Regions from separate parts of the Homo sapiens genome. Here all the other regions are linked to region 1. The links come from fine-mapping of genetic effects on gene expression. A gene starts in region 1. Each other region holds a variant in brackets. All regions are shown on one strand. Distances are from middle to middle.

Region 1 (10,255 bases):
CTCTATAGAAACAAAAAAAACTTCTGAAGCTGGGAAGGGAAAAGCAGTCACAAAACCAAGTAAGAATGCACAGGGCACTGGCCGAAATGAAAAGGACACTCACAAAGACGTTAGAAGTCACAGATAACCAAAAATGGCTAGGGAAGGCTGGGTGCGGTGGCTCATGCCTGGAGTCCCAACACTTTGGGAGGCCAAGGTGGGCAGGTCGCTTGAGCCCAGGAGTTTGAGACCTGACTGGACAACATAGTAAAACCTTGTGTCTACACAAAATACACAAATTAGCTGGTTGTGGTGGTGCACACCTGTAGTCCCAGCTACTCAGCACACTGAGGCGAGAAGATCTCTTGAGCCCAGGAGGCCAAGGTTGCAGTGAGCCAAGATCACGCCACTGCACTCAAGCCTGAGAGAGACCCTGTCTAGACAAGAACAACAAAAAAAGGCTAGGGAAGAGGTGAAATGCCATGGGCCACCTTGACAGAAGGCTTCTGAAAAAAGATAGTAACTAAAGGGTCTTGTTTTCCTTGGCATGTTGGGAACAAGGGCAGACCTCTTACCTGGACCATTCAATTTCTGGTCCTGACTGGTTGACACTGGGACTATGCTTAGCAAATCTGTGACCACAGGGTTAATAGAAGACAAATTAGTCTTCTGTTTCTAGCAATGGATAATCTGAAAGTCTTTCTGCAGGGAGATAATTCAGGGAGAATTACACTAGACTTTTGAAAGGCATCCTTAACTCATGTCTGACGTATCAATTAGTGTAAGAGAGAACTAAGTTACTCTGAAGTTACTAAAAAAAGTAACATGGCTTGAAATAAATATAATCGTGCTTATATTTCCATTTAATTCACTTTGAGAGGGGATGTAGAGTCTGCTTTTCAAAGAAAACCACATGTAAGATTAGTAACATTCAAAGCTATCATGTAGCAGATTTATGAGAACTCTACTGACACATGGTTTTGGCTCCACTGGGAAATGGAGGGGAACAGGGCCAGCAAAATGTATTTAACAAAGAGATTTTACACATCTCACTGCCACAGACTCACAAAGACTGGCAGAAATGAGTAATAGCGAGGCTTATAATTAGGTCCTCTTTTCTGCTGTGGAATGCTATGACTGCTGTTAGATGAAACAGAAAGAATCTCGCTAATTCTAACTCTGCTAATCTGCATTTGCAATAACTCATCAAACAAGCACTCACCCCATTTCTCTGCAAATATTTTGTAGTCAAGAGCAGTGGTAAGGTCTCAAATCATTAAGGCTGGATTACTTCTACAGAGGACTGCAGACGACAGCACATTTGCCAGGACATGATGCAGTGCCATCCATCACTTGTAAATAACAATACCTGTATTTGCACAGCACCTTTCTCTAACACTCTTCAGAAGCCTTTACAAACTGCCTCATTCGTCTCCCACCTTGGGAGGAGGCACCTGGCCAGTGATGGAGTCGTCTGTCGGGCTGCTGAAGTTCCAAAAGGCAACAGCCTTTCCGGCCGCTCCCACTAGGTCACTAGCTCAGGGGAGTTGGCAACAGACACTCCAAACAATTGGGTCAGGTTTTTTTTTTTTAGACGAAATATTCGCTCTTCTTGCCCAGGCTGGAGTCCAGTGGTGTGATCCTGGCTCACCACAACCTCTGCCTCCCAGGTTCAAGCGATTTTCCTGCCTCAGCCTACAGAGTAGCTGAGATTACAGGCACCCACCAGCACACCCGACTAATTTTGTATTTTTGGTAGAGACGGGGTTTCACCATGTTGGCCAGGCTAGTCTTGAACTCCTGAGCTCAGGTGCTCTCCCCACCTGGGTCTCCCAAAGTGCTGGGATTATAGGCGTGAGCCACGACACCCGGCTCTGGGTCAGGTTTTTAAACGGCACTGTCCTCGGTATCTCAATGTTAAGATGACTGGTGATTTCATGAGTTAAACGTGCCAAGCGCTTAGAAGTGTGTCAGCACATTGTGACACTCAACAAACTTCATTAGTGTTTCCACCAGTCTGCTGCCTGAACCGGCCAAGAGGACCACCTGCATCCCTGCGCACAGTACAGAGAGCTCAGAGTTGAGGAAGGTGTGGGCCCGGTTTGCTATGGGGGCAGTGAGGGGTGAGAAGAGGCCCTGGGGAAACTCTGGAGTGCTTATTGAGTATTTTGTGCCACCCCGGGAATAAAGAGATCAAGAAGACCCAGCCCTGGAAGCAAGAAGACAGGCAGAGAGGCGAAGGTTAGTGCACGAAGGAAAACAAGGGGATTGCGGGGAATGTACAGGAGATATGGGCCAGACAGCAACAAAGAGAAGACACAAAAGAACATTAAGATAGTCACTGTAAGAGAATTTTATTATTTCTGATTGAGCATTGAGGCACAAGTCTGTTATCCAATTTAAGCACTTAATGAAAGCATTCTCAACATTTTTAAGGCAGTGATTTTGATTTATGAACTGTGCTCTTGGCTATCCTTGATGATTATCCTTTAGTGTAGTGGGCCGCCTTTTTTTTTTTTTTTTAAAAACTATCTACCCTTCAGAGCTGCCTACTCTCTGGCAATGCCAGACTAAACAAGAACACCAGAGCTTCCTGCCAGAAAAGGTTCACACATGGTCCTCTGTAACATCTAGGAAAGCGCATTTGAGGGGTGCTGTTGGCATCTGAGGGGTGCTGTTGGCATTTGAGGGGTGCTGTTGGCATTTGAGGGGTGCTGTTGGCATTTGAGGGATGCTGCTGGCATTTGAGGGGTGCTGCTATTGGGCCCCTCCTCTAACTATGGTCTTGGAGACAGATGACAGATGGTGACAGCCACCCGCAAGAGCTCACCCCGTAAGTCTAAAGGGGTTGCCCTGAAGTTACTAGAGGAGTTTACCTGGGGGATGAACAGTGCTGGTACCCTGATGCTGAAGCGGGACGTGAGACTCACTGCAGCAAACACAGCCCCACCCTGTGACTTGCCCCGAGGCCCAAACCTCGAATTTCATAAAGGAGAAAAACTGAGCCCCAGTGAAGCGTGAAGTGATGTCTTCAAACTTAGAACCCAAGCTCACTGCTACACTAGCACAAATAAGCTGCCTCTTCCCTCCTCAGGGGTAAATAAACTACTTACTCTGTAATTCACAAAGCCTAGCTGTTTACTCTGCAATTCAAAGAAAACCAGAGTCCAGCAAGGAATTTCTCCCAGGGAGTGAGTATGTACAGTTTATACCTCTGACCTTAAAAATCTCCATATGGGCACTTTGGAAGGCTGAGGTGGGTGGATCACCTGAAGTCAGGAGTTCAAGACCAGCCTGGCCAACATGGCAAAATCCGGTCTCTACTAAAAATACAAAAATCAGCCAGGTGTGGTGGCAGGCACCTGTAAACCCAGCTACTCGGGAGGCTGAGGCAGGAGAATCTCTTGAACCTAGAAGGCGGAGGTTGCAGTGAGCCAAGATCGTGCCACTGCACTCCCAGGTGACAGAGTGAGACTCTGTTTCAAAAAACAAAACAAAAAACTTCTTTATGGGTGTGTCTCTGTATGCAATTTAATTACTGTACTTTGGTTCTGTATCATTCCAACAGATACGCTTTAATGTAACCCATGTCCTGGGGAGTGGAGGGCCAGAGCAGGTGGCTGCTGCAGTTCCTGGAGGCAGCCCTGCCCGGGGTGGAAATCAAGGCGCTCCTCCCCACAGTGGACAGGGACCCGCTGTGGTGGAATGGAAGTCAGTTATCCTTAAAAGAAATCCCATCAAAAAAAAAACTCCCTTTGAAGTACTTTTTTTCTTAAAACCAATGCAACACAAATTCCCCCAAAACCATTTTCCATCACAGTGGAATGATTTTCTAAAACCCCATGCCTCTTAAGTTCTCTGGCATCAGTTAGACATTTTTCTTTCCCAGTGCCAGTTAGTTTTGTTGTAGAGAGCCTCCGTCACCACTGAAAAATATTGCCTACTCTGGACTGCAACATATTTAAAGAACGGCTCCTATTCATTGTGCTGGTGCAGAGAATTCCCGCCCTATAGCGGAGGACAGCAGAGAAGGATAATGGGAATCTTTTTTTTTTTTTTTTTTTTTTTTGAGATGGAGTCTCGCTCGCTTTGTCGCCAAGGCTGGAGTGCTTTGGCTCAATCTTGGCTCACTACAACTTCTGCCTCCCGGGTTCAAGCCATTCTCCTGCCTCGGCCTCCTGAATAGCTGGGATTACAGGCGCCCGCCACCATGCCCAGCTAATTTTTCTACTTTTAGTAGAGATGGGGTTTCACCATGTTATCCAGGCTAGTCTTGAACTCCTGACCTCAAGTGATCCACCCTCCTTGGCCTCCCAAACTGCTGGGGTTACAGGCATGAGCCACCGCGCCTGGCCAGGAATCTTTATTGTCAAGAAAATGGCGCAAATGTGCCACCAAAAGAAGCCATGTTTCTCAAAGACTTCTGTTCCTACAAGACTGAGTTTATGACACTAAGGCGTGCTATTAAGACCTAAAAGAACCTCACGCATCCATACATTGAAGTGACTTGGCTTCTGAGACCCAAGGCCTTTGATCTTCTCACCAGTGTCCCTCCATATGGGCCGACTGCCACTGGAAAGGAGAGTAGAAACGGAAACAGACCCGTCTGGACAGAATCCAAAGTGCAAACAGGAACTGTGCCCAGAGAGAGGAGGAGGTGGCAGAAGCATGAAGGCTGCTTAGATCCCTATGTTCTAAGAAAGACCGCTCTTTCCTGGCTTTAACTTCCTTGGCTCAGAAGTTTAGGATTTGCTCAAAATCAGAAAAAGCAACTTTGGGGGAAAAAAAAAATCTGGATGTGGAAGAAACTGGCGGTGAAAGTCATATTGAGTGATTAATGATAAAAATTATTTCCGCTCCTTGGTTCTTGAGTCGGTATGAAACGCTGGCAGCCTCTAATTAATCATCACCATGATATTAACACCACTGACTTTTCATTGCTTCTGCTACTTTCTTTCTAGACATCTGTATCCTCTAAGTAAATATTATCCGCCAAAACTTTGTTATAAGTTGTGCAACTGGGTTCGCCCAAGGCACCGGAGCCTGCGCGCAATCGCACAGGTACGCGGCCGCCCGCGGTCCTCAGGAAGAAACGCTTCGCCGCCGCCGGCAAGCGGGGCCGAAGCTCCGGCGGGCTCCTCCCGGGCCTGGGCGCCCGACCTCTCCGCGGCCCGCGCCCCTCGGGCGGGCATCAAGGCCCGGAACCCGTCTCAGCGCTCGCCGGGGCCCTCCCCGCGGAGCCCCCGCCCGGCGCCCCCGGGTTCGAGCCCGCCCCCGGCACCCGCGCGTGGAGAGAGAGGAAAAGAGTCAGTACCGGCGGGCGGGTGTCCAGCTTTAGTCTCTAGTTTCCCTTCGGGAGGCGAAGACATGACGCGGCGGGGCTTCCGCGGGGCCGAGGCGGCGGCGCGGTTCTCGGGCCGGGCGGGCGTGCGCGAGTGAGCTCAGGTGTGAGCGCCGGGGAGCGAGCGGGCGGGAGAACGACGCGCGCGCGTGGGGCGCCGGGGCCGCGCGAGCCGGGTGAGTGCCACTGCCGTTAAGGGGGCGCGGCCGCCGCGCGCCGACGTGGCGCAGCCGAGCCCACCGACGGCATGCGCACTGACGTCACCGCGGCCCGCCCGCCCTGCTGGGCCGCGAGCCAAGCATACGGTGCGTGCGCAGCCGGCCGCGCCACGTCGGATGCTGTGGCCGGGGGCGGGGGCGGGGGCGGGGGCGGGGGCGGAGGAGGGAGGGGAGAGAAGGGGTGAAGAAGTGAGAGGGAGAAGGAAGGAGAGGGAGGCGGGGTCCCCGACTGGCTGCGGGGACTGGAGTTGCGGAAAGTTAAGTAGGGCCCAGCTGAGGATGGCTCCTGCAGCGAACGCGCTCAGCCGGGCTCCTGGCTACGCGGCGACGGCTGGGTGACTGCGCCCCACAGTGCGGGCCAGGGCCGGGGCGTCCCGGCAGGGAGGCGACCGTCCCCTGAGGCCCTCAGCCCCTGCCGCGGCAGCGCCTAATGAAGCGCGGAAAGGAGAGCCCAGATGGCAGCGACGGGGGCCGAGAGAGCAGGAATTTGTTAAAAGACGATGCGAGGGGAGAGCCTGCTTTCCGAGTGAGGGCCAGCGCTGGGGAGCAGAGACGGTGGCTTCTGTCCCTGCCCTCCTCGTTATGAACCAAAAATAAAATTCTAAGCCCTGCAGCCAACGGATGGACCCTCCCCTCCGCCTGTGGCCTTCTAAGTTATCTTGAAAAACTAGTTCAGGCCTTGATGGGAAGCGGAAGTCAAACATGGCCTCACAAACATCCGCACGGAGACCCTAAGACTAATAGAGGACTCTGATAAGAAACATTTGCAGTGTATTCCCGGCTTCATCTGCATGATAACACCTTGGTCTCCACAACTCCTTCATGCAACCCGGACATTCCCTTCTACTGAGTCCAGGTCTTTAGATGATAACTCTCAACCAGTTGCCAATCAGAAAACCTTTAAATGTACCTATGACCCGGACGCCTCCACTTCACATTTTACCTCCTAAAGAGCCAACCTACATCTTACGTATTGATTGATGTCTCATGTCTCCCTCAAATGTATAAAACCAAGATGTTTCCTGGCCACCCTGGGCACATGTCATCAGAACCTCCTGAGGTTGTGTCAATGCACGTCCTTAACCTTGGCAAAATAAACTTCCTAAATTGAGACCACTCTCAGAAACTTTTGGTTTTCACCATCATCTTCCTGTTGCCGTGGCTGACCCCTGGCTCTCGTGCCTTGGATCGTGTTCTTCCCGCCTGCCCCAGTGTTTTGCAACTGCTGTTAACTTCCGCAATGCCTTGCTGGATTCGCATTCAGACAGGCCTAATCTCTTTAGCGAAGGAAACACCACCCCTCGCTTGGCTGTACTTTTCCCTTTGACAACAAAACTGTTCAGGGAGGCTGAGCTCCTCATCTCTTGTCACTCCCTCCAGTCCAGTTTGTCTGGTTTTCATCAAGTTCTGCTGCACTGCCCTCAACCATGGGAGGTCCTTTTGTGGAAGTCACTTATAACCTATGTGCTGCCAGATCCAATGGTCATTTTCTACTTTCATTCTATTTGAGCTCTTAGCAGCACTTGATGCAGCTGGCCGTCCCCCTCCTCCTTTGCTCCGGAGGTGCCACATCACTGCCTTACCCTCCAGTTCTCTGGCCACCCTGGCTGCTCACTCTGTCAGCTTGGCAGTTCGCCCTCTTCTAGATTTATAAACATTTGAGTATCGCAAGGCTCAGCATTGGCCTTCTTCTCTATCTAGACTTCCCATAGATAGTCACATGCAGCCTGTGGACGACTATCATGCAGATGCTTACAGGTGCCAAATCTGCAACCTCATTTCTCTATTTCTGCTCCTCCCCTGAACTCCAGACTCACCACCACCACCACCTGCAGACGCTTATGGGTGCCACATCTGCAACTTAATTTCTCTCTTTCTGCCCCTCCACTGAACTCCAAACTCACCACCGCCACCTTGGCTTCTCTATTTGTTGTCTAACTCAGTGCTGCGCAACTCTGTGCATCAGGGCACACATGGAGATGCACATAGCATACATTGGTCTTGCATTCCCCACTCCATACACACATTTCAACACCGGTAATAGGATAATTGTTGGCCAGGCTGCAGTCATGATATGCTTGCCATTGTCTTGCATTCACATCCAAACTTCCAAGTGGGTGCCAGCAGTTTAGAAGAGAATCCTGAAATTAATACTGGGTTACTCTTTAAAGAGATAGCACATCACTCACGTTCTTAAAGGTTTAAGGATACCTAACTGATTAATTTCATGAGTAACTTCCTTTTTATGTATGTGCAAAAGTGCTATATAGTTAAAAACTTATGTCGTATGTCTTAAGCCTAAAGAATTATTTCTTGGAAGTATAAAATGAAAATTTTAAGTTGAAAGAGCACATTGTGGTATCATTTAATTGGTAGTGTTTTTACCCTTAGTGGTACCTAAAACAAAGTTGCATGTTACGAGCCACAGCATCTTAGACTCAATAACAAATGCTATTGGTAAGGAACCCTGGGGGGTGGGGGAGAAAGCCTTCACAGGAAGGAGCAGAGCTCCAGAGGGGCCCTGGTGGCCCCTGGACTGCCCTGAGGTCTGACAGGTTGTGTCTCTTTGCCTGTGACCTGTTCTCCAGGTTTGTACTGATTGGGAAACTCTGGTTGTCTTACAGTAGGTAGCTAGTCGGCCTGAGCAGGGCAGGAGAGGACTCTTCCCCCACAACCCACACCACCAGAAATGTTGTGTGACCATCAGGTGATGGTCAGGAAGTTGTTACACTGTTTCTCTAAAATAATAATTGGTTGCAGTCAGTGCCAGGGAAAGGCAGTCTCCCAGTAGATAGAAAAAACCTGAAAGTGGTGGTCAGCAGCTTCCTGGTAAGATCTCTTTGCCACACATCGAGAGGCAAAATGGCAACGTTTGACTGGTATATGACCTTCTAGGAACATGAGGCTGGTAAGGGAAGATTGCCTCAAGTGAGCATGTGTACACTTCCAATAAACACACTGCCCCTGCTCACTTTCCAAGCGCTGGCAAGTCACTGTGCATGTGGACAGCCTACCCCAAGGGAAGAATCAGGGGATAAGACTGATCCCTGAAGAATCAAGGGATGCAAGACTCCAGAAGTATGCCAATGTATAAAACCCTAAGTCAAAGGTCAAACCGTGCACTTGATCTCTAAAGTTACCTGCTTGGCCATCTTCCAAGTGTACTTTCCTTTTGTTCCAGATCTAAAGCTTTTTAATAAACTTTCACTCCTCCTTTAAAGTTGCCTCAGTCTCTCTTTCTGCTTTATACCCCTCAGTTGAATTCTTCCTTCTGAAGAGGCAAGAATTGAGGTTGCTGCAGACCTGTACAGATTCACTGCCACTAACGTATTATATTTGGGTGCTACGTGATTCAGGTACATTCTGCTCCTGACAGTGTGACAGCCAAGTTAATTTTACATCTTCAAAGAACTCTTGATTTCCCACCTATCGGCAAATAGCTTCTCCTCTAGAATACAATCCAAGCTACTCATTACAGTGTGGAATAATCTGTCTACTCAATAGCATTTCTAATGAAGGAAATACTGTTAAGAAGGTAGTGAACTTCGCAAAAAAAAGACATTTATTTTTCAGCTTCCCTTGTAGCTAGGGGTAGCCAAGTGACACAGTTTTGACCATGGAAATCTGCTGGGGTGTTTTGGGGAAAATTTACATTCTTAATATGGGGACACCCCTTCCTCCTGGTGACATCATTTGTACCACCTTGAATTCAGACAGAAGGCCAAAGGTAGAACAATCATATCGCAACTGTGAGGCAATCAAAGGCATGAAAATCACAAGCTAAAGGTGACAGAGCAGGAAGGTCAAAGGCATGTGGGAATCTGAGGGTCCATGGAGGCGCTTCAGAGCTGTGGACTCCTCGTCCAGACTTTTTTGTTGTGTGGGAAACAAATTTCTATTAAATAAAGTCCTTGTGGTTGGTGTCTTCATGGGCAGCCAAATGCAACCCCTAGCACACATGGCCTACCAGACCCTGCATGATGGGGGTCCTGCCCAGTTGTGAGCTCCTCCCTCTTGGCTCCTCTGGCCACACTGGCCTTTCTGAGGTTCCTCTAGCAGGACAAGCCAATTCTTCCCCTTGGGACTTTGTGTTAGCCACTCCCACTGAGACAGCCAAGCATAAAGGGGTCCGCAGAGAAACTCTGACTACCTGCACACCGGAAGATGGGGTGGAGCCACAGAAGTTCACGCCCTTTACAGGGGAGAGGAGCCTGACCTCTTCCCGGGTGGAATCTGGGATTCAATCTGTGACGCGGGAAACCGGCTAGCAGGACTCTTGCTTTGCTGAAAGTCCCTGTTTCCTTTTTTTCCTTTTTGCCTAATAAATTCCATTTTCCCCACCCTTCAAAGTGTCTGTGAGCCTAATCTTTCGTGGTTATGTGACAAGGACGCTCTTTTTAGCTAGGCTAACAAGAAAGTCCTACAACACCACTGCCGAGAACTGTCTCTTCCAGATCCTCGCGTAGTTAACTTCTTCTTATTCTGGAATCAGCTTTTCAAGGGGCCTGCTCTGTCTTACTGTCTTTATAGCACTCTATCCTCATCTGAAATTCCTCATTTATCTGTCTGCTGGCTTATTGTTTTTCTCCACTGACTAGAATGTCAGCTCCATGAGGGGAGAAACCTAATCCATCTTGCCCACTAGGTATTCCCAGCACCTAAAACCATGGTGGGCACAGAAGAAGCATTCAACAGTTATTTTCTCCCCATAATTCTA
Region 2 (10,255 bases), 110 kb after region 1:
TCTTTGATTCAATATGAAAAAATGATAATTTAGTGCTAACATGATACTCCAAATAACTGGGTACCAACCTGTTAGTTTTATGGAATTCTTCATGAGAGTAACGGTTGTTTGTTTTTGTTTTTTTTTGAGACAGTCTCGCTCTGTTGCCCAGGCGGAGTGCAGTGGCACGATCTCGGCTCACTGCAACCTCCACCACCCAGGTTCAAGTGATTCTTGTGCCGCAGCCTCCTGAGTAGCTGGGATTACAGGCGTGCATCACCATGCCTGGCTGATTTTTGCATTCTTAGTAGAGATTGGGTTTCACCCTGTTGGCCAGGCTGGTCTTGAACTCCTGGCCTCAAGGGATCCCCTACGTTGGCCTCCCAAAGTGCCTGGAATACAGGCCTGAGCCACTACGCCCAGCCATAACTTTTTTTTTTTTTTTTTTTTTTAACCCATAGGTTTTGCTGGTCTCAGGCATACTTATATGTCTTAGTCTGTTCAGGATGCTATAACAAAATATCATAGATGGGGTTGCTTTTAAGCAACAGAACTTTACTTCTTACAGTTTTAGAGGCTGAGAAAGTCCAAGATCAAAGCACTGGCAGGTTCAATGTCTGGCTAGGGCCTGTTTCCTGGTTTGTAGACGGTACCTTCTTTCTGCCTCCCACGTGTTCCACATGGCGGAAGGACTGAGGGATCGCTATCAATCCTCTTTCATAAGGGCATTAATCCCATTCATGAGGGCTCCCAATCACCTCCCAAAGTCCCCACCTTTTAATACCATTACCTTGGGGGTGAAGATTTCAGCATATTAATTTTGGGGGACACAAACATTTGGACCATAGCATTACATCCACCTTTTCTAAATGCATTAAAACTGGTAAGGGATATTAGCATGTCAGGACTCTTTCTTTCCAAAGCCATGTTGTTGTTTTCTTCCACTTTTCGAGGTTGTTGCAAACTGAATTGCTAGTGATTCTTCTCCCGAGCCCATCTCAGCAAAGAAAATAAATTTATCCATAAAACAACAACCCAGGCCACTGGGTCGGCCTCGTAGCAACCACCACGGGGGAAAGGAAGAACCCAGGGCTTCCTAAGGTAGTTCTCGGCATAACCACCAGGGGGCACTGCTAAAGTGCTGTCTCCTGGTCCTGGGCCTCCTAAGTTGGGGATGATGTGGTCTGCTGTGCAATGAGCATCTCGGTCACACCTTGAGTGCAATTAGATTAAAATGTGTCAATTATTGGCTGTGTTCCAGGTGTTTTTCTGTGTTATCTCATTTAATTCCATTATTTGCCTGTGTGGGAGGTATTTCGAATTTCACTTTACAGGTTGGCAACTAAAGTTTTTGCTCATGAGCTATCTCACATCCTAGGTGCTTGTAAGAGGTGAAACCAGTTTTTTGTTTTTGTTTTTGTTTTTGAGACGGAGTTTCGCTCTTTTACCCAGGTTGGAGTGAAGTGGCGTGATCTCGGCTCACTGCGATCTCCACCCCTCGGGGTCAAGTGATTCTCCTGCCTCGGCCTCCCAAGTAGCTGGGATTACAGGTGCCTGCTACCACGCCCAGCTATTTTTTTTTTTTTTTTTTTTTTGAGACGGACTCTTGCTCTGTCACCCAGGCTGGAGTGCAGTGGCGCAATCTTGGCTCACTGCAAGCTCCGCCTCCTGGGTTCACACTACTCTGCCTAAGCCTCCCGAGCAGCTGGGATTACAGGCGCCCGCCACCATGCTAGTTTTTTTTGTATTTTTAGTAGAAACAGGGTTTCACCGTGTTAACCAGGATGGTCTCGATCTCCTGACCTCGTGATCCACCCGCCTCGGCCTCCCAAAGTGCTGGGATTACAGGCGTGAGCCACCGTGCCTGGCCTAATTTTTGTATTTTTAGTAGAGACAGGATTTCGCCATGTTGGCCAGGCTGGTCTTGAACTCCTGACCTCAAGTGATCCACCAGCCTTGACCTCTCAAACTGTTAGGATTACAGGCATGAGCCACTGTGCCCAACTGAAACAAGTTTTTAAAGTCTCTAATTGTCCATCTACAAAGCTCTCAGTCTTAAGAACAAAATCTACAGGAAATTAGGGAAGGAGAGAAGCAGCATCTTGCTCTTTCTAGGCAAGAAGTTCCAGCTGTAAGACTGGATGCTGGGGACGGCTTCATTTCTTTCACTTGAGAAACTGAGGATTTCCACAGTGCAAACCTTGCTTAATGTGTATATCAGTCAGTCAGGAGAGGCTCAGCTGCTGTAACAGATACTCCCCAGAAACTAGGTGGCTTGAAGTAACAAAGGCTCATTCCTCACTCAGACTTCTTGACCACAGTGGCTTTCTAGGGAGTTTCTGCTCACCCTAGGTGTGCAGGTTCCTGGCCAATACAATGATGCTGGTCTGGGAATTTGCCAGTTGCTGTGCATGAGAGAAAAAGAGAAAAATTTAGGAGGGTCTTGAACTGGCAGCCACATGCTCCTGTCCAGAGGTGACGCTCATCACTTCTGTTTGCAATGTGTTGATCAGAACTAGTCACATGGCCCCACTTATGTCCTCGAGGGAGCCAGGAATTCTATCACATTCCCAGGAGCACTAAGGACTACTGATGACCACCACAGAGCCTCTATCAGGGCTGAATAATTACAATTTGGATTTTTTTTTTTTTTAGATGGAGTTTCACTCTTGTTGCCCAGGCTGGAGTGCAATGGTGCCATCTCGGCTCACTGCAACCTCCAACGCCCGGGTTCAAGCGATTCTCCTGCCTTGGCCTCCTGAGTAGCTGGGATTACAGGCACCCACCATCATACCCAGCTAATTTTTTGTGTTTTTAGTAGAGACGGGGTTTCACCATGTAGCCAGGCTGGTCTCCAACTCCTGACCTCAGGTGATCCACCTGCCTCAGCCTCCCAAAGTGGGAGGCCTGATTACAGGCACGAGCCACCGTGCCCAGCCACAATTTGGATATTTTATTAATCATGAGTTCTTTTTTTAACATTCATTTTTATTTTTAAAAACATTGCATTAAGACATTCTTTATTTTGATTTCTGAGTTTCTGGCTCTCCCGTACATTTTGCATCTAAGACCCGTGCTTGCTGCGAACAGAGGGAGGATAAAAAATAACAATTTTGACTGAAATTTTGTTTTCATGAGAGAGCCCTAGAGAAAAGCAGTACTTACAGAGAGGCAAGAATATAGTTGACATCTACATAAATATTGACAGAAAAAGAAAAGGATGAGAAACACACTGTAACAGAAAAGAGAAAACAAAAAGGAGGTCAATTTGAGATTGAGATTGCTGAGGTACATGCTGCTCGGGCTCTTTATTTAGTCAGCACATGGTATAGGAAAACTTTTGTGTTCAATTTCCCCAGTGACCTTCCAAGTACATTATGAAGACAATTAAAACCCGTATCCCAGAACCACAAAGTTTTCAGCGATTGGGCTAATGTTAATCAGTGTGAATTGAACGAAAACAGCTTGTTCAAGTAAAATCGATTGAAATCTTGACGAGCAAAAATGGAAATTTTGGTTGCAAGTGTTTACTTTCTTTTTGTAGGAACACTGTTGTATAAGATTTTTAAAAGTACAAATTACTGGAAGCCCACAGATGCTTCTGTAAGATGCCAGAGAAATTAATTTTGGTAAAGATCTAGGATGTTTTCAATTTATCGAACTGTACATATATAGCAATTTAACTTATCTTGGTACTTGGTATGATTTTTCTTTTAACCAATGTCTTGAATTTTGTTCTTGTGTGGATTTCATTTGAGTGTGAATCTATAAAATTGACCTAGATTCCTTCTCGGCAGTAGAATTGATCTCCTTTTTTTTCCCGATTTGCCTTGTAAAATGCATCTGTGAACTTGCCTGATAAAGTTGAAAAGAGAACTTCTTCAAAGATCAAAATTATTTGCTAAATGTGTTTCTATACTTGGAACATCAGTGAAATATACACCTAAATATGGGGTGAAAGTAAGAGAAACTTCTTGACTACAACATTGCTTTAATCTTGGGGACTTTACGTTCCTTAGAAAATCCCAACATCCCGAGGGCAACCTCACAATGGATATGATCACTACATAAGTATCCAGGAAAATAAAAACAGCTTGAGTTTTTGAGGAACTCTCTTTTTAAAACTCTTGAAGTACCGTGTATTGTGCTCTGAAGGGTGATGCTGAGTACTTGGCATTAGCTTTTCTTAGGGATTTGTTCACATGGTCCCCTTCAGAAGAATGACTTGGCAAACAAACTTTGCTGTCACTGGGAGTCTTTTAACACCACCTCAGTAAACCGCAGCCAGGGGGCTCGCTTTCCCCATTGCCTCACTGGGGAAAATTAAGGTCTTAGAGAGAAGCATTAATATCTGGGAGAGGTTGGTTAATGGGTACAAAAATACAATTAGAAAGAGTAAGTTGTAGTATTTAATCGTAGAGAAATTGTAGTTGAAATAATCTATTGTATATTTCAAAAGAGCTAGAAGAGAATTGTAATGTCCCCAACACAAAGAAAAGATAAATGTTTGAAGTGATGAATATCTCAATTACCCTGACTTGATCATTACACACTGTGTACAGGTATCAATATATCACATGTACTCCCCAAATAGGTACAACTATCATAAAGTAGTTATATAATACAACTACAATAAAGATAATACAATAATGTCTGTTCCCTGGGATCAAGCTTACTAGGAGAAGAGGGCCTGGAGGCAGGGAACCTAAGGACTTCCCAGAACTAAATCAAGTGGAAATGCTTCAGCTATGACAGGAAATATCCTCTTCATTTACATAGGGCGTGCACCAAGTAAATGACTTTGTAACTTTACTTCATCCTCTTCATTTACATAGGGCGTACACCAAGTAACCAATGGAAACCTCTAGAGAGTATTTAAACCCCAGAAAATTCTGTAACTGGGCTCTTGAGCCCCTATACTCAGGCCCGCTCCCACACCGTGGAGTGTACTTTCAACACATCTCTCTGTTTGTTGCTTCATTCTTTCCTTGCTTTGTGTGTTTTGTCCAATTCTTGGGAACCTGGACACCCTCCACCAGTAACACTGTGGCCCTTGGGGAACGAGTCATTAAAATTTTAACGACAAGTGCAGCTCTTCGAAGGATATTCCAGTCAAAGGAAGAGCATCAAAGAAGAGGTTTTTTGCTTGGGTTACTGGCAATCAAAGAATGTGTCACTAACACCTGGACGGGGTTTTGAAGTACTAGCAGGAGTTCCTCAGGTTCACAGAGGAGTGCTATGAGGGAGGACAGCCAAGGTATGTGGAGCAGGTGCGGAGAGGGGGGGGCACATGGAGCAGAGGGCCTTGGTGCCTCTCCAGGGCCCTTTTCCGGATCTGTGAACCAACCTTAACTCTCTTGCAGGAGATGGAAGGGCCTGGATGTTTAGGTTACCCTCGCCTCCCACAAGAGTTGCCCATGGTTCAAAAGCCAATTGTCTCCGTCGCTAAGGGTGGGACAGAATCCAAGGCACAACCTATACTCTAGGGGCCCCTTGGGTTGAAGCTGAGTCCGTGACCACCCCTGAAAATGCACTGTTGCTGGCTTCTCCTCCTCCCTACTTGGCTTTGCCCACCTCTTTCTGTCCCTGCGGGAGAACATCCTCAGGAAATCCCCGGGGCCTGGGTCCTTGCTCAGGGCCTCCTGGGAGAACCCAGCCTCAGAGGATGCGTTTCAGG[A/G]CAGGAACTCCCAGAAGGACCATGGGAGTTGTGTGTTTGGAAATTGTAAATATAAGATCAAACGAATGGATACGGCCGGTGAAAATACTTTGTAAACTACAAGTGCTTTACCCTATTAGCAGTAATTGTTTTCCATTTACAACTGTCTTTCCCAACAGGCCTTGGGAATACTTTATTGGGTCAGTTCATCCTCCTCCTACCGCTGTTGCCAGCGCCCTTTATAACATTCTGTGTGATGAGTGCACCTGCTACCTGGGGAGGTGGGTGGGGCGAATGAAAGTCGATTACTTAAATCTGGATGACAAATGCCCTGCCTTTACTCCCCTGGATTCAAAGCTTTTATTTGGCCCAATGGAGCTTTCCTGGGGCTTCATCTCTTAGCACATTGCTTACTATCGCAGAGCTATTTGTTTTATAAACTCAACTCCTTAAACCCAATGAAAAACAATGGCTTCAAAGCAGCTTTTTCCATTCTGTGAACACAGGAAAAAAAATAGCAGTAAATCAGAAACTTCTCATCTGAGACAGTTATTTTATCTTTTTGGCACTGGCCCTTAGAGAACAGGAGGTAGAATCCACCCGAGCCCCTCGTCTCTCTGTGGAGTCTTCCACAACGTGCATAACATCCCAGCCGCTGTGGAACGTGGCCGAGGCCAGCCCCAGCTTGATTTAATGCTCTCCGTAGCTGAGTTTCTTTGCCCCAGGCTCAATAAGCTGTAAAGAATAGATCCTCTGACAAATTGACAGCTTTTGCTTCAGAGATGTAAAGCCAATGGGAAAACCTACAACAGGGCAATTCTCTTTTTATTCAATTCATTTGGAGAAATAATCATCAGAATAATGATCTATTTTAGGGAAAGGTGGATGGAAACTTAGGCTATTTGTAGAATTTTCTCCTAGGTTTAAAATAACATTATCCTAAACTCTTCCTTTCCTTCCTTCCTCCCTCCCCTCCTTCCTTCCTCTCTACCTTGAACTTGACTACAGCCTTATACTTTGTGTGAGGTTCAGTGTGAATTCAGAAGAGAACTTATAAAACATCTATAAAATTAAAAGAAATCAATTGGCACTGCAGCCCTATAAACTCTTCTTCCATAAAAGCCATTCTGTGCCACTTCTCATCTCCTGGGAGGCAAGAGTGGTAAAGGCTCACACTTCCAGGGGAGGGCAAGTTCAATGGCAAGCTATCTGACTTTGGGCGACTATAATCCTATGAATCTCAGTTTGCTGAGGTGCAAAAAGGTGATAATTATGCCTCCTGTGCTGGGTAATAGAAAGCAAACAGATAATGCCCTTTCATGGAAACTAGCACATACTAAGAGTTAATCAAAGATAGGCATTATTATCATTCTTGCTACACAAACTTGGATAAACAAAGCAAGGGCTGGGAACAGGAAAGGAAAGAGAAAGCTTAAGGAAAAATTAGATTTTTTTTTTAAAAATGCAGCATTGGAAGAGCTATTTAAATGGTTTCTTTAAGTCTGTTGTGGAGAGAAAACTGCATATATGGGTGTGGGTGGGTGCAGAGGGTGGGGGTTGACTGACAAGAGCATCAGGGTGTTGGGGACCCCTTCAGATACATGAGAATTCCCCTTGGCAATGTCCAAAGTGGACCGGAAGGTGGGAGTCAACACTAGCAGCATTTTTTTTTTTTTTTTTTTGGGAGACAGCATCTCACTCTGTCACCCAGGCTGGAGTACAGTGGCGTCATCTTGGCTCACTGCAACCTCGGCCTCCCAGGTTCAAGCAATTCTCCTGCCTCAGCCTCCCAAGTAGCTGGGATTACAGGCACCCGCCACCAAGCCCAGCTAATTCTTGTATTTTTTTTTTTTTTTTAGTAGAGACGGAGTTACACTGTATTGGCCAGCCTGGACTCAAACTCCTGACCCTGTTATCTGCATGCTTTGGCCTCCCAAAGTGCTGGGATTATAGGTGTGAGCCACTGTGCCTGGCAAGCAGCAACTATTTTAATCCCAAACACAGCTTCCTTCGCCATCCAGTTCCTTCTTCTCTTCTCCCACCTCCTCCTTCTCCTCCTCCTCTCTCTTTTGTATAACCCTCTATATTTCATCAGAAATACAGTCAAGAAGGGGTCATTGGAGCATGATAAGCAAACAATCTTCACAGTCATCACAGGGCCAGGATAGAGTTTTGTCATTTTTTCTTTTTTCCATGATTTTATATTCCACCTTGTCTGCAGTCAGAAATTGGCATTTGAAAATGCAGTTTATATGGTCCTGTTTAGAAAGTTAGGGTGAGGCTTGCTTTTTTGAGCTGGCAAGAACAATAAAGACCTAGGAAGATGACAGGATAGGGGAAGAGGAGCTTTGTTAGATGGGCGACGTGCTGACGGTTTTGGAAGCTGCGTTGAAATTGAATTTCTTGCACAAACGTCGTCGACACATGCACTTTCCCATCCTCATGGCAGATGTCATAAGAGAATTATTGGTGTAGTGAATTCTTGCCCAATTTCTCCCGCTTTAATCCCATTTTACACATACTTCTTGGCTTCCCTGTTATAAAAGCCAGAGCGTTTTTGAAAGCAAATGCCCTAAAAATTCACACATTCTCGTTCTACAGGGAGACATCGCCAAAAGCTAAAATATCCAGGAAAGGGAGAGATGATGCATAAACTAATCACCAAGAAAATGATAAAAATTCATCACTAGAAAGTCTGGCTTTTTAAGTATCCTTTTCTAGATTCAGTTTTTTAAGAACCAGGTCAAAACCTGATACTTTGGAAGGAAGACCTTACAAATTACATTGGAAAATCCTGGAGTGTTTATGTATTACCCTCATTGCACCTGAGAAAAATCTTTTGAATAAATATATGTAGGTACTGCATCTCTGAATAATTTTTTGTTAGGGCAAAAGATCCATTAAGGTAAATATCATCAATCAGACAATTATAAGTATTCAAAATGATTGATTCTATCGAATTAAGAGTGATTTCAGGGATATGAAACTCCTTAATTCACACATTAAAAAATTTTACCACTTATTTTTCATTAATGTACAGTAAAAATGATAATAAATCAAGCAGATCTCAGTTTGAACAGAGGTGATTGTAGTTGATACTTAAAAAATAGCCTCATTAAGACTCACGTTTATTAATGATCTACCCTGTCACACACACTGGCCAAAGTTTGATCTGGAGTCCTAGCATGTATGTATTGATTTATGAACCTGCTTTGGATTATTACCTGAGCAGAGAAATTGTATTCAGCCACAGAATTCAGGCTTTGAATTTTGGAACTTTCTATCCAGGGTCCAGTAAATGTCAGCGTGGAAGGTAATGGGCCAGGCAAATAAACCCCCGTCATGATCATGCGGGTGGGATGATCTCGCTGTAGCCTGACTTGGGTGAGTTAGTTTACATGAAGCTGCTGCCTGAATTCGCTATGTGGCCAGGCTTTGCCAACATATTCATGTGTAGGAAGCGTGGACGTTTCCTCTCCAGTGTTTGAAAATCTTGTGTGTGAGTTTCCTATGAATGCCGTAACAAATTGCCACAAAGCTGGTGGCTTAAAATAACACAAAGGTATTCTCTCACAGCTCTGGAGGCCAGAAGTCTGAAATCACTGGGCTGAAATCAAGGCGTTGGTGGAGCCACACACCCCGCTGGAAGCTCCAGGGAAGATTCATTTCTTTGCTTTTTCCAGCTTGTCGTGGCCGCCTTTGTTCCTTGGTTTGTAGCTCCTTCCTCCATCCACAAAGTGCATCACCTCAACCTCTGCCTCTGTCTCTGCAGTCACTTTTCCTTAGAAGGTCACACTCACAGTTCCAGGGATAGCAACTTGGCTATCTTTGGGGGCCTTTATTCAGCCGACCCCATCGTAGAATACAAACTATGAAATGTGACCACGTCCTTATTAAAAACCAGTCGGGTGTGGCGTCTTATGCCTCTAATCCCAACACTTTGGGAGGCCGAGGCAGGCAGATCACCTGAGGTCAGGAGTTCGAGACCAGCCTGGCCAACATGATGAAACACCATTGCTACTGAAAACACAAAAATTAGCTGGGCGTGGTGGTGGGCACCTGTAATCCCAGCTAGTCAGGAGGTGGAGGCACAAGAATTGCTTGAACCCAGGAGGTGGAGGTTGCAGTGAGCCAAGATCATGCCACTGCACTCCAGCCTGGGCAACAGAGCGAGACTGTGTCTAAAAAAAAAAACAAACAAGTAATTCTAGGGCAGTTTACATTTTATTTAAATTTCTTAAACTAAGAAAATAATATGCACATGGTAAAACAAAACAAAAAAACCAAGCAGTACAAATGATGGACAATGAAAAGTGAGCGGGCCTTTCACTCCTGACGGTGTTCTGTGGATAGGAACTGCCCTGGCTTTACAACTGAAGGCCCCACATCGCAGGAGGTCCCTCAGTCCCAGACAAACCAGACAGCAGCTTACCCTGTTCCAGTTCCATACCCTACCCCAGAGCTTGCCATAGTTACTTGTTTTTTGTGTATCCTTCTGAAAGTTTCCACATATATAACACAAATTTTTAACTCAATTGGAAAATACCTTTTTAATTATCTTGGCATTTTTTTCCTTATCGGCGCATCTAGTTTTATCTCTCTCCCTCTTTTTTTTTTAAT
Region 3 (10,255 bases), 34 kb after region 1:
GAACCAAATAATGTTTTACCAGTTAGGGTGCTTTTGGCTGTAAGTAATAGACCAGATAACAAAGAAGCTAAGGTCATTTATTATTTCCTTCACAAGAAGTTCAGAGATAGGCCAGTACCAGGCTTGGTTAACTCAGCAGTGCAACAAAATCCTCTAAAACTCAATTCCTCCCCCCTTCTCTCTCTGCGATCCTCGTGGGCTTGATTTATCCTTTTAGGGTTGGCTTCCCTCATGATGCAGAGATGGCTATGACAATTCCAGGCATGCCATGTAGATGACAACATCTCTGTCCCTTTTTAAGAGTAAGGGATAATTTCCCAGAGGTTCCCCAGCAGATTCTTACTTCCACTGCCCTTGACCATGACTGTGATCTCTTTCCAAGCTGTATTAGTCCGGGTTCTCCTGAGAAACAGAACTAATAGGAGATAGATATATTTATGTACATACACTCAAGTGTGTATGTGTTTGTGTGTGTGTGTATATATATAAAATAAAGAATTGGCTTACATGATTATGGAGGCTGAAATGTCCCCAGATCTGCAGTGCAAAGGCCTGAGATTCAGGAGAGCTAATGATGTTAAGTTCTAGCATGAGTCCAAAGCAGAAGAGAGACGTCCCAGCCCAAAGTCAGGCAGGCAGAGAGAGCAAATTCTCTCTTGCTCAGCCTTTTGTTCTAATCAGGCCTTCAACAGATTGGATGAGGCCCATCCACATTGGGGAGGGCAATCTGCTTCACTCAGTCTACCAATTCCCATGCTAATCTCACCTGGAAACACCATCACAGACTCACCCAGAAATAAAGTTTACCCAAATATCCAGATGCCTCATGGCACAGTCAAGTTGACACAACAGTAACCATCACACAATCTTAAACTAGCCACCAACAAGGGGAGTAAAATGACTATGAATGGCCGAGACCAATCCCAATTCACTCTAGGGCTAGAGGGGGAGCTCAGCCCCCAGAAGCTCAAGGCCTTCCAGTCCCTGGACACAGCTGGGGTTCTGTTGGCAAGTAATAGGGGGAAGAGCTGTGGGGCAGTGACCAAGAATGGCTGCACCCTCTGCTCCATGTAACTCACCGAGGAGGTCCCCAAAATGTAATGCATGACAGGATGTTAGCTAACACTTGCTGGGCACGTACTCTGCACTAGGTGTGGTACTAAGCACTTGGTAGGTGTCATCTCATTCAATCAGTTTAACAACCTGAAGCTCCTTGTGTTGGGCTTTGTTGGGAGGTGAGATGGACCTTAATAACTGAATCTTCCTGGAAGAGCCCAGGGTTAATCCTCTTAATATCAAATTGCTCTCCATAAATAACTGCTTTGCTGTGGTTCTTGTGAATTCCTTCTTCTTTTCTTTCTAGTAGTTGACTTCACTTTAGACAACTGCAATTTCTACTCTGGCATGATTTCTCAGAGGCGGTCCTCAACAAACATGCCTGGGGTCAGGGAGAGAGTCCAGTGATATGAAAAACTAGCCCAGAATGGAAAACTCCTTGAAGTTCTGCAATTATATATTATTTTTTATTTTGTTTTTGATTTTTTGAATTGAATTTGATTTGTTGAATAAATTAATTCAAGCAATACAAAAGTACTGTTGAGAGCAAGTGTGCCTCCCACCTTAGTCCCTGCCCAAATCAGCTCTCCCATGGATCCATTCATCCTTCCCTTCCTAGTTATTGATAAACTATTGTTACGCAAAGGTCTGTGCCAGGTTCAAGCTGACTCGTGGAGTTCCAATGGAGTTATCTTTAGTTCTTCCCTCCCACACAGGAAGCACCCATCAGGTGCCAAGTCCTAAACATCCATCTTGACAAAATCTCTGAAGTCCTCATTCCCTGTTTGTTTATTGTTTCTCCTTGGACTCATTCTGCCAGCCTCCAGTGGCCTCCATGACAACATTGCCTCCTTCTCTGTTGTCTCCGTCTTCTTTAAGTGCATTTTTTATAAAGATACACTACGTTATAGGTGGAATACTGTGTCGCTCCAAATGCACACGTTGATGTTCTAACCCAGTAACTCAGAATGTCACTGTAGTTGCAGGTAGGGTCTTTAAAGAGGCAATTAAATTTAAGTGAGGTCTTTGAGGTGAGCCCTAATCCAATCTGACCGGTGTCCTTAATAGTAAGAGGTGATTAGGACACAGACACACACAGGGATAGACCATGTGAAGACACAGGGAGAAGACGGCTATCTACAAGCTGAGGACTGAGGCCTCAGAAGAAACAAGACCTAGTGACGCTTTGATATTAGACTTCCAGCCTCCAGAACTGTGAGAACATAAATTTGTGTTTGAGCCACACGGTGTGTGGCACTTTGTTATGGAAGGCCTCGCGGGCAAACACAGACTACGTACAATCCAGCCACTCACTTGCTGAAAGCTCTGTAGTGGCTTCTGGCTGTTTAACAGTGAGGCAGCACTGGCCCACCTCTCAGGGCCCTTCTGATCTGGCGTGGACCTGCCTCTACTGTCCCGCTTGCTTACCATCCATGCTCTGGGCTTCAGCTCACACTGGGCTGATTCCCATCCAGGGAACACGGCTGTGCTTCCTTGCCTTTCGCCTTTGCACAGGCTGTTCCCTCTGCAAAAAACATATTTGCATTTCCCATCACGCCCCTCCCATTTCTACCTGTTGAAATCACGTCCATCACTCAAACCCAGCCACAGTGCCATCTCCTTTAGAAAGGCATATGCTTTCCTAAAGCCACAATCTAGTTGGGTCCCTCCTTTTCACCTCCCTCATTGTTACAGGTAGTCAGACAGCATGAGCAGGGCAGAAGAGGGCTCTCCCATCCACTAGGAAGGTTGGGTAATGGTTCAGCAACGATCACAATGCCTCTCTAAAAATGGTAAATTGGCAGCCAGTGCCAGGGAGAGGCCATTTCCTGCTGGCCCACACCTGTTGCACTAAAGTGTTCACTGAATGCAGACACCAGGGAGAAGCAACTTCCTGAGCATATACATAAAGAGACAAAATGGCAGAGTATGACCTTCCAAGGGCACCCCACAGGAAAGGGAAGAAAGCCTCAGATGGGCATGTGCACAGCTTCCTAAACACACTGTGGGTGCTCACTTCCCAAGGGTAAGGGGAGCACTGTGTATGTGGGCAGCCCAGCCTAACGGAAGAATCGTGGAAAAGGGGCAGCCTATAAGGCCCTAGCATCAAGGTTAAACACCGCACTTGTTCTTCAAGTCACCCGCTTGGGTTTCTTCCAAGCCTACTTTCCTTTCTTTCCTGTTCTAAAGTCTTTTAAAATAAACTTACACTCCTGCTCCAAAACTTCCTTGGTCTCTTTTTCTACCTTATGCCTCTCAGTCAAATTCTTTCTTCTTTTTTTTTTTTTTTTTAGATGGAGTCTTGCTCTGTCTTCAGGCTGGGGTGCAGTGACGTGATCTCGGCTCACTGCAACCTCTGCCTCCCGGGTTCAAGCAATTCTCCTGCCTCAGCCTCCTGAGTACCTGGGACTATAGGCATGTGCCACCACGTCCAGCTAATTTTTGTATTTTTAGTAGAGATGGGGTTTCACCACGTTGGTGAGAATGGTCTTGGTCTCCTGACCTCATGATCCACCTGCTTGGGCCTCCCAAAGTGCTGGGATTACAGGTGTGAGCGACCGTGCCCGGCTAAATTCTTTCTTCTGTGGAGGCAAGAATTGAGGTTGCTGCAGGCCCATATGGATTCGCCAGTAACTCAGACATCTTCCACCAGGGTAACACCATCATCATTTGTAAAAGTCTCATGCCGGGATCAGACCTGCCCCGTATTCTATTCAGGTGTGCACTCAGTTGCCTTCCTATTTGACTTGCTCACCTTTCAGCGTGTCATCTAGGAGGACTAGACAAGTAGCACATTTTCACAAACACGAATGGAATGAACATGACAGGCCAGATTGGAAAATAGGATCAAAAATAAGTCAAAAAATGAAAATTATGTCTATGGAAAAAAAGAAATAGGAAACACGACTCAAATTGTGTCAACCCTAGGATGACCTGCAGGAAGTTGAAACCCTGGGTGGGAGAAGTACTGAATAGAAGAGAGAATGCTGCTCCCCTGACACTGCAGCTATATCGGAAAATACATTCTAAGTCTACTTAAGATAGAATTCCGGTTGAATATTCTGAAATGTGTTCTTACATGGAAGACATTTGACCCCTGGAGACAACTCAACAGAAGCTTTGCCTTGGAAAGCTGGTTGGATGGAGAGGTTTTGTGAGGTCTTTTTACTCTGGAATCTGAGATGCCTGGTGGAACTTGAGCAGCACTGTTCAGCAGGGGGCAGGCCACCAAGAGCACACATATACCCTTAAAAACCATCTGCTCTGCAAACATGCAGAAATCATTAATACATTGCAAGCGTGGTTTTGCCCAGACCTGCTGCAAAATGATCACAGGCAAAGTGGTTTGCGTACTCTCCCCCTCACTGATGGCTCTTTGGGCCGTCAGTTGAACAAGGAACCCACACGGAGCTAAAATGTACAAACGACAAATAAAATGTTGCCTCTCTCTCCAGACTCTCACAAAATCAGGAAAAACAAAAAAAACCTTTCTTTCCATTTCTGCAAGAAAGAAATGAGAGCTAAAACTGTTAGCCATGTGAAATCTAGTGGGGAAACCTGTTTTTTTTTTCCTATGAGTCTTAAAGCAGCAATAATTTGTTTTCCTTTCTTTTCCTTTCTTTTTTCTCCCCTCTGCCACATTAGAGAGGCTTGCTGACAAAGACTTGAGTAGGTTCTATAAGGAGCCCCAGGCATCCCCAGATGTGGTGCACATTGAGATGGATGGAGAAGTTGTGTATGGCGGAGGAAACTAGGAGTGCCGCAGGATAGAAATCCACTGGGAGTAAGACGGGTTGGTGTCCCTCTGGAATCCGTGTTGCTGCCACTGCTCGGTAGAGAAGGGTGGGTGGAGTCATGTCCCTGGAACCTGCCTGACAGTGTTGCCAGTTCTCCTGCTTCACTTCTGGGGCTGCCCCCGTGTCCCTGATGTCAAAGCCATGAAGTTACTTCTGGGAGGGGAGAAATCAAGCTGGAGACCCTGAGACAGGGGTGAAATCAGAACCTGCTGCGCTGGTGGAATTTGGCAGATGCCTCCATGCTGTGAAGGGGCCATGGGCACCGAAAGGTCTCCCCACCCCTGCACCCTCTCACTCTGATGCCAAGGGCCTTTAGTTCCCCAGAAGCAGAACTGGAGCTGGGGAAGACTACATGAGGGATTCATGAAGCCAGAATTCTTAGGAGGAGGAGGGATCAGGAAGACACACGGTGGAAGGCACGGGGCTAGGTGGGGATGTGGCCTCTGCTGGAGACCAACTTCTGCCGGATCCCATGGCAGCTCCATCGGGTCCCTTTTGAGGTGAGGACATTGGCCTTTTGTATCTCTATGTTTTGTCTTTGACCACTGGCCATGGTGATGGTGTTGGGTGACTGACAAGGTAGCTCTGTGCTGGGCTGCACTTCCTTCCGCTG[A/G]AAGTCATTAGGATGCCTCGCGGCTCCTTGTGAGGTTGGACATGGCGGATGAGCACTGAAGGTGGCAGGATGCTTCAGTACAGAGACAGATGGTAGATGTTCTGGCTTTTCAGGCCACCTGATATGGTTAGGCTTTGTGCCCCCACTCAAATCTCATCTGGAATTGTAATCCCCATAATGCCCATGTGTTCAGAGAGAGACCAGGTGGAGGTAATTGAATCATGAGAGTGGTTCCCCCATGCTGTTCTCATGATGGTGAGTTCTCACGAGAGTTGATGGTTTTATAAGGGGCTCTTCCCTGCTTAACTAGGCATTCTCCTTCCTGCCACCTCGTGAAGAAGGTGCCTTGCATCCCTGTTGCCTTCCACCATGATTGTAAGTTTCCTGAGGCCTCCCTAGCCATGCAGAACTGTGAGTCAATTAAACCTCTTCTCTTTATTAATTACCTAGTCTCGGGCAGTTCTTATAGCAGTGTGAGAATGGACCAATACACCACCTGTGGTCTCTGTTGTATATTCTTTTTTGTTTTATTTCACCACTCTTTATAGAAACTCCATCATTGGCCTGAGAGCCACACAGAAACAATCCCTGATTGACTAAATCCATTAATTCATAAGGGATTGCAAAATGGTGATGGCCTAACTCTTCACGCTTCATTCACTAGCTGAATTATTTCTATAAAGAAAAAGATTCTGCCAGTCACCTATTTAATACCCTGAGGGACAGTTCATTTAGGAAAGACACGATAAATGCTTGGATTTTTCTGTTTACTTACTATCTTAGCCCATTCCAGGCTGCTATAACAATACACATGAGACTGGGTGATTGATAAAGAACACACACTCATTTCTCACCATTTTGGAGGCTGGAAGTCCAGGATCAAGGCACCTAGAGTTTTGTTGTTTGATGAGGGCCTGTTCTCTGCTTCCAAGATAGAGCCTTGTTGCCAGAGGTGATCAATACTGTATTCTCATGTGGCAGGAGAGATGGAGGGGCCAAAGGCCTGGCTAGTTCCCCAGAGCCCTTTCATAAGGGTTCTAATCCCATTCATGAAGGCAGAGCCCTCACAATCTAACCACCTCCCAAAGGCCAACCTCTTAATACTGTTATCACACTGGGTCTTAGGTTCCCATGTATGCATTTTTGGGGATACATACATTCAGATCATAGCATGTACTGATTTTAATAATAATGAGTTTGTTTCTAGACATTCTCCAGAGATAATCAAGATTTTTTTTTTTTCCTCTTAGTATAATTGTGAACTTAGGGATGTAAGCATATTGACAGGTTCAGGATCAAATTTGCCATCTTTGGGCAGTTTGGCCTCTGAATATTTTTCAACAGTTTTATTGAGATATATAATTCACATACAGTACAAACACCCATTTAAAGGGCACAATTCAATGGTTTTTAGTATATTCACAGAGTTGCACAACCATCACCACAATTAATTTTAGAACATTTTTGTCATCCCCGAAAGAAACCCTGTACCCACCAGCAGTCATTCTCCATTTCCCTCCACCTACCTCTTCCATCCCTGTACCCCACCCCCAGACCTAGGCAACCACTAATCCACTTTCTAGACGAGACTGTTCTGGACAATTCATATACACTGAATGATATAATAGGCGGTCTTTTGTGACTGGCTGCTTTCATTTAGTAAAATGTTTTCAAGGGTCCTCTACATTGTAGCATGTATCAATATTTCATTTCTTCTAATTGCCAATTAATATTCCATTCTGTGGATGTACCACTTTGTATTTATCCATCCATTGGTTGATGGACATTTGGTTGTTTCCTCTTGGCTTCTGAGTCTTTTTGATAGCTCCCTAGCAGTCTTTGGCAGCTTCCTTCCTTTCTAGCATAATACGAAGTTCCAGACTCTTCTTATATATGTCTACCGCAGGCTTGGGAAAACTCACTCTCCAAGGAGCACATATTCGTTTTAATGGGAAATGCAATGTCAAGATAAAACCTGGGTGCTAGGGATGTTTATTGTTACTGGGCTGGTCATTGATTCTAGGACTTGCAACAGACAGAGACAAAACATTTTTTTGGTTGTTTACTTGTTTGTTTATTTGCTGTTTAAGATAAACTTTACCTGGTGAATGTCCTGAAGCTTCCAGTTCAAAGTTAGGACCACAGAGTTTTTACTTAGCTTCATCAATATTACAATTGTATTTTTTTCTATGCTAAAATGTCAGATTCTCAGTGACACCAAAGTAATGACTCATTTGCATTATCCCATAAGACACGCAGACACAAGTTTCATGTCGCAATATCAAAACTTGTGGGAGCAATGTATTTACTGAAAACAGTTTAAAATTTGTTCAAAGTTATTTTTGCCTTACAGATTTGTCACTGGAGATGTACAGTTGGAAATGTATTTTAACGGCATTTGGAATAGTTCCTCTTTGTGGTTATGCTATCAACTGGTTGCCACTTAAGTTCATTTAGTTCACTTTATTTTTGATTTTTAGAGATTGATTTTATAGAAATTAATTTTGTTTTCTAATTATGTTCTAAAGTTAAAACTACAAGGTAAGATTTATTCAAAGAAGTCCGGCTTCTATTCCTGTCCCTTCTATTTTACTCCCTTTTGTTTCGATAAGGCAACCACTAAAGACAATTATCTTCTTTTACTTTAAATTTTAAGCAAATTCTATATATATGTTCAATCCCCCTTCTTAGACTACTGTATTTACTATTCTCCATCTTGCTTTTCTCATTGGACCATAAATCTTGGAGATCACTTCATAATGGAAATCTTTCTTAGTCTTTTTTAACAGCTGCATAGTACCCTAATACTTTCTATATGCACCCCAGTTAATTCACCTTGTACCTGATTGACAGACATTTGGATTGTTCCAAGTTTTATGCAGTCTCACAAATAGTGCTGCAATGAATCGCCTATACATTTTCAGATTTTTGCCAGAATATCATTGGCTAAGAGCATAGAAGTGGGATAGCCAAGCTAAAGGAGCATACTTTGTGTAACTTGGGTTTTTCTAAGGCATGATTTCCGTTAGGGGTTGCAAAACGGTGATAGGTATTTAAATTTTATCATTCTTTATTTATTAGCTAGAACAGCTCTATAAAAAGAAAGCTCCCCTTACCACCTCTTTGACTACACTGAGGGACAGTCCATTTAGGAAAGGCAGGACAAATGCTTGATTCTTTTTACTTACTGATTTTCACAAAAATGAATTGGTTCTCAGGCAACTTCCAGAGGTAATCAATGAAGATTTGTTTGCCCACATGTATCATTATGAACATATAAATTCAATCATATTTGATGTGTTTAAATCCAATGTCATCTTAGTATAATATTAATTTCCTTTATTATAAGTGAGGTTGGGCACCATTTCATGTGCCTAAGAGTCAGTCACATTAATTCTTTCATAAACTATCTGCTCATATTTCTAGACTACTGTTGGTCAAGTTGTGAGCCTTTTTTTCTCTTTTTAGAATCTCTTTTATATATTGTTATTGACTTTTGATACATGTGTTTTTTCTTAGTTTATCATTTCCCTTTTCTACTTTGCTTATGCTGTTAATTTTTCATAAAAAAGGTTTTTTGGTGATCAAATTAATCAAATGTTATATTTAATGCTTCAGATTTCAAGTCATAATTAGGAAAGTTTTCTTCATTCGCAGGATAAAGAGGAATTCAGCCACATTTCCTTCTAGTACCTTATGGTTTGGTTTCGTTTTTACATTTAAATACATACCATTTGAAATTTATCCTATCATATAGCATGAGTAAAGATTCCATTTTATTTTCTTCCATATGGCTATCCAGTTATCCTAACACCACCTGTGAAAGAGTCTATCTTTTCCCTACTGACTTCAGATTTTGACTTTATTGTATACTACATTTTAATAATCACATAAGTCTGTTTCTAGAGTTTATATTCTGAATCATGTGTACCTATTTAAGCATTAATATAAAGCTTTTGAAATGATGGCAGCTTTGTAGGAAGTTTTAATATCTGAGAGGTCTTTCCACCACCCTCCCTGCCATTCCTCTCCTTTCTTAAGCTGCTATGCTTACTCGTATGTTAATACAAATACATTCTATATAATCAGCCTGTCTGGCCTAGGTAAAAAACTTGGGAATTTTTCAACTTTGTATTACATTACATTTCATTTATATGTTAGCTTAGTGAGTTCTGATTTTTTTTTTTTTTTATGCTGAGTCTTCCTATACAAGGACATGGAGTGTCTTTCCATTTGTTCAAGTCTACTTTTGTGCCTCTCTCGTGAGTGTTTTATGGTTTTCTTCATGCAGGTTTTGGGCACTTCTTTGCTACCACAAATGTGGTGGTCTCTTCTATCTTCTTACTGGTTTTTGTTTACAATATATGATGAGTATTTATTTTTCTTTGTTAATTCTAAAAATTGCTCCCTTCCTAACACTGCTCTCAGTGTTATAGTATCTTTTCCTTTGATTCTTTTGAATTTTCCAGATACATAATCATAAAGTGAAAAATTTTTTATATTAGAAACTCCAAGGGAATGTTTGAAACACGGATCTCTGAGAAAGTGTGTCCCTTGTGAACCATGGGAATGAAGTCAAGGCAGTTGCCACAACTTGTTGGCAACATGCTAGAAAAATATATATTCAAGGAAAGGAAATATAGCTTTTTAAGGACTCTAATGACAATCTCAAAGCTTTAAGGTTGGAGACAACATTGCAAAAATATAGAATTATTAATTGTCTTTGTCTCTCTACTCTTTTTCTGACAGCCCTTCCTTCTCCATGTCCTTTACTCCTTTGTTTTATATA

Evidence for each region. PIP is the estimated chance that this variant, and not a neighbour inherited with it, causes the effect.
Region 2: its variant is fine-mapped to the expression of DAP in whole blood (TOPMed, PIP above 0.99).
Region 3: its variant is fine-mapped to the expression of DAP in whole blood (TOPMed, PIP above 0.99).

The regions. Positions count from the first base shown.
Region 1 is chr5:10,755,721-10,765,975 of GRCh38, forward strand. DAP (death associated protein) reads right to left here and starts at 5,514. Exons shown (of 4, transcript NM_004394.3): 1 at 5,294-5,514. The coding sequence starts at 5,348. It overlaps DAP-DT (DAP divergent transcript), which reads left to right and starts at 5,316. Exons shown (of 3, transcript NR_187555.1): 1 at 5,316-5,496. RefSeq lists silencers at 934-1,023, 5,070-5,499, 5,580-6,049 and enhancers at 1,244-1,323, 5,572-6,417.
Region 2 is chr5:10,862,870-10,873,124 of GRCh38, forward strand. No RefSeq gene overlaps it. Among named protein-coding and RNA genes, the nearest start is that of CTD-2154B17.1, 81 kb to the left of the region's middle. The variant A/G (reference allele first, on the strand shown) is at 5,657.
Region 3 is chr5:10,789,684-10,799,938 of GRCh38, forward strand. No RefSeq gene overlaps it. Among named protein-coding and RNA genes, the nearest start is that of CTD-2154B17.1, 7.8 kb to the left of the region's middle. The variant A/G (reference allele first, on the strand shown) is at 5,467.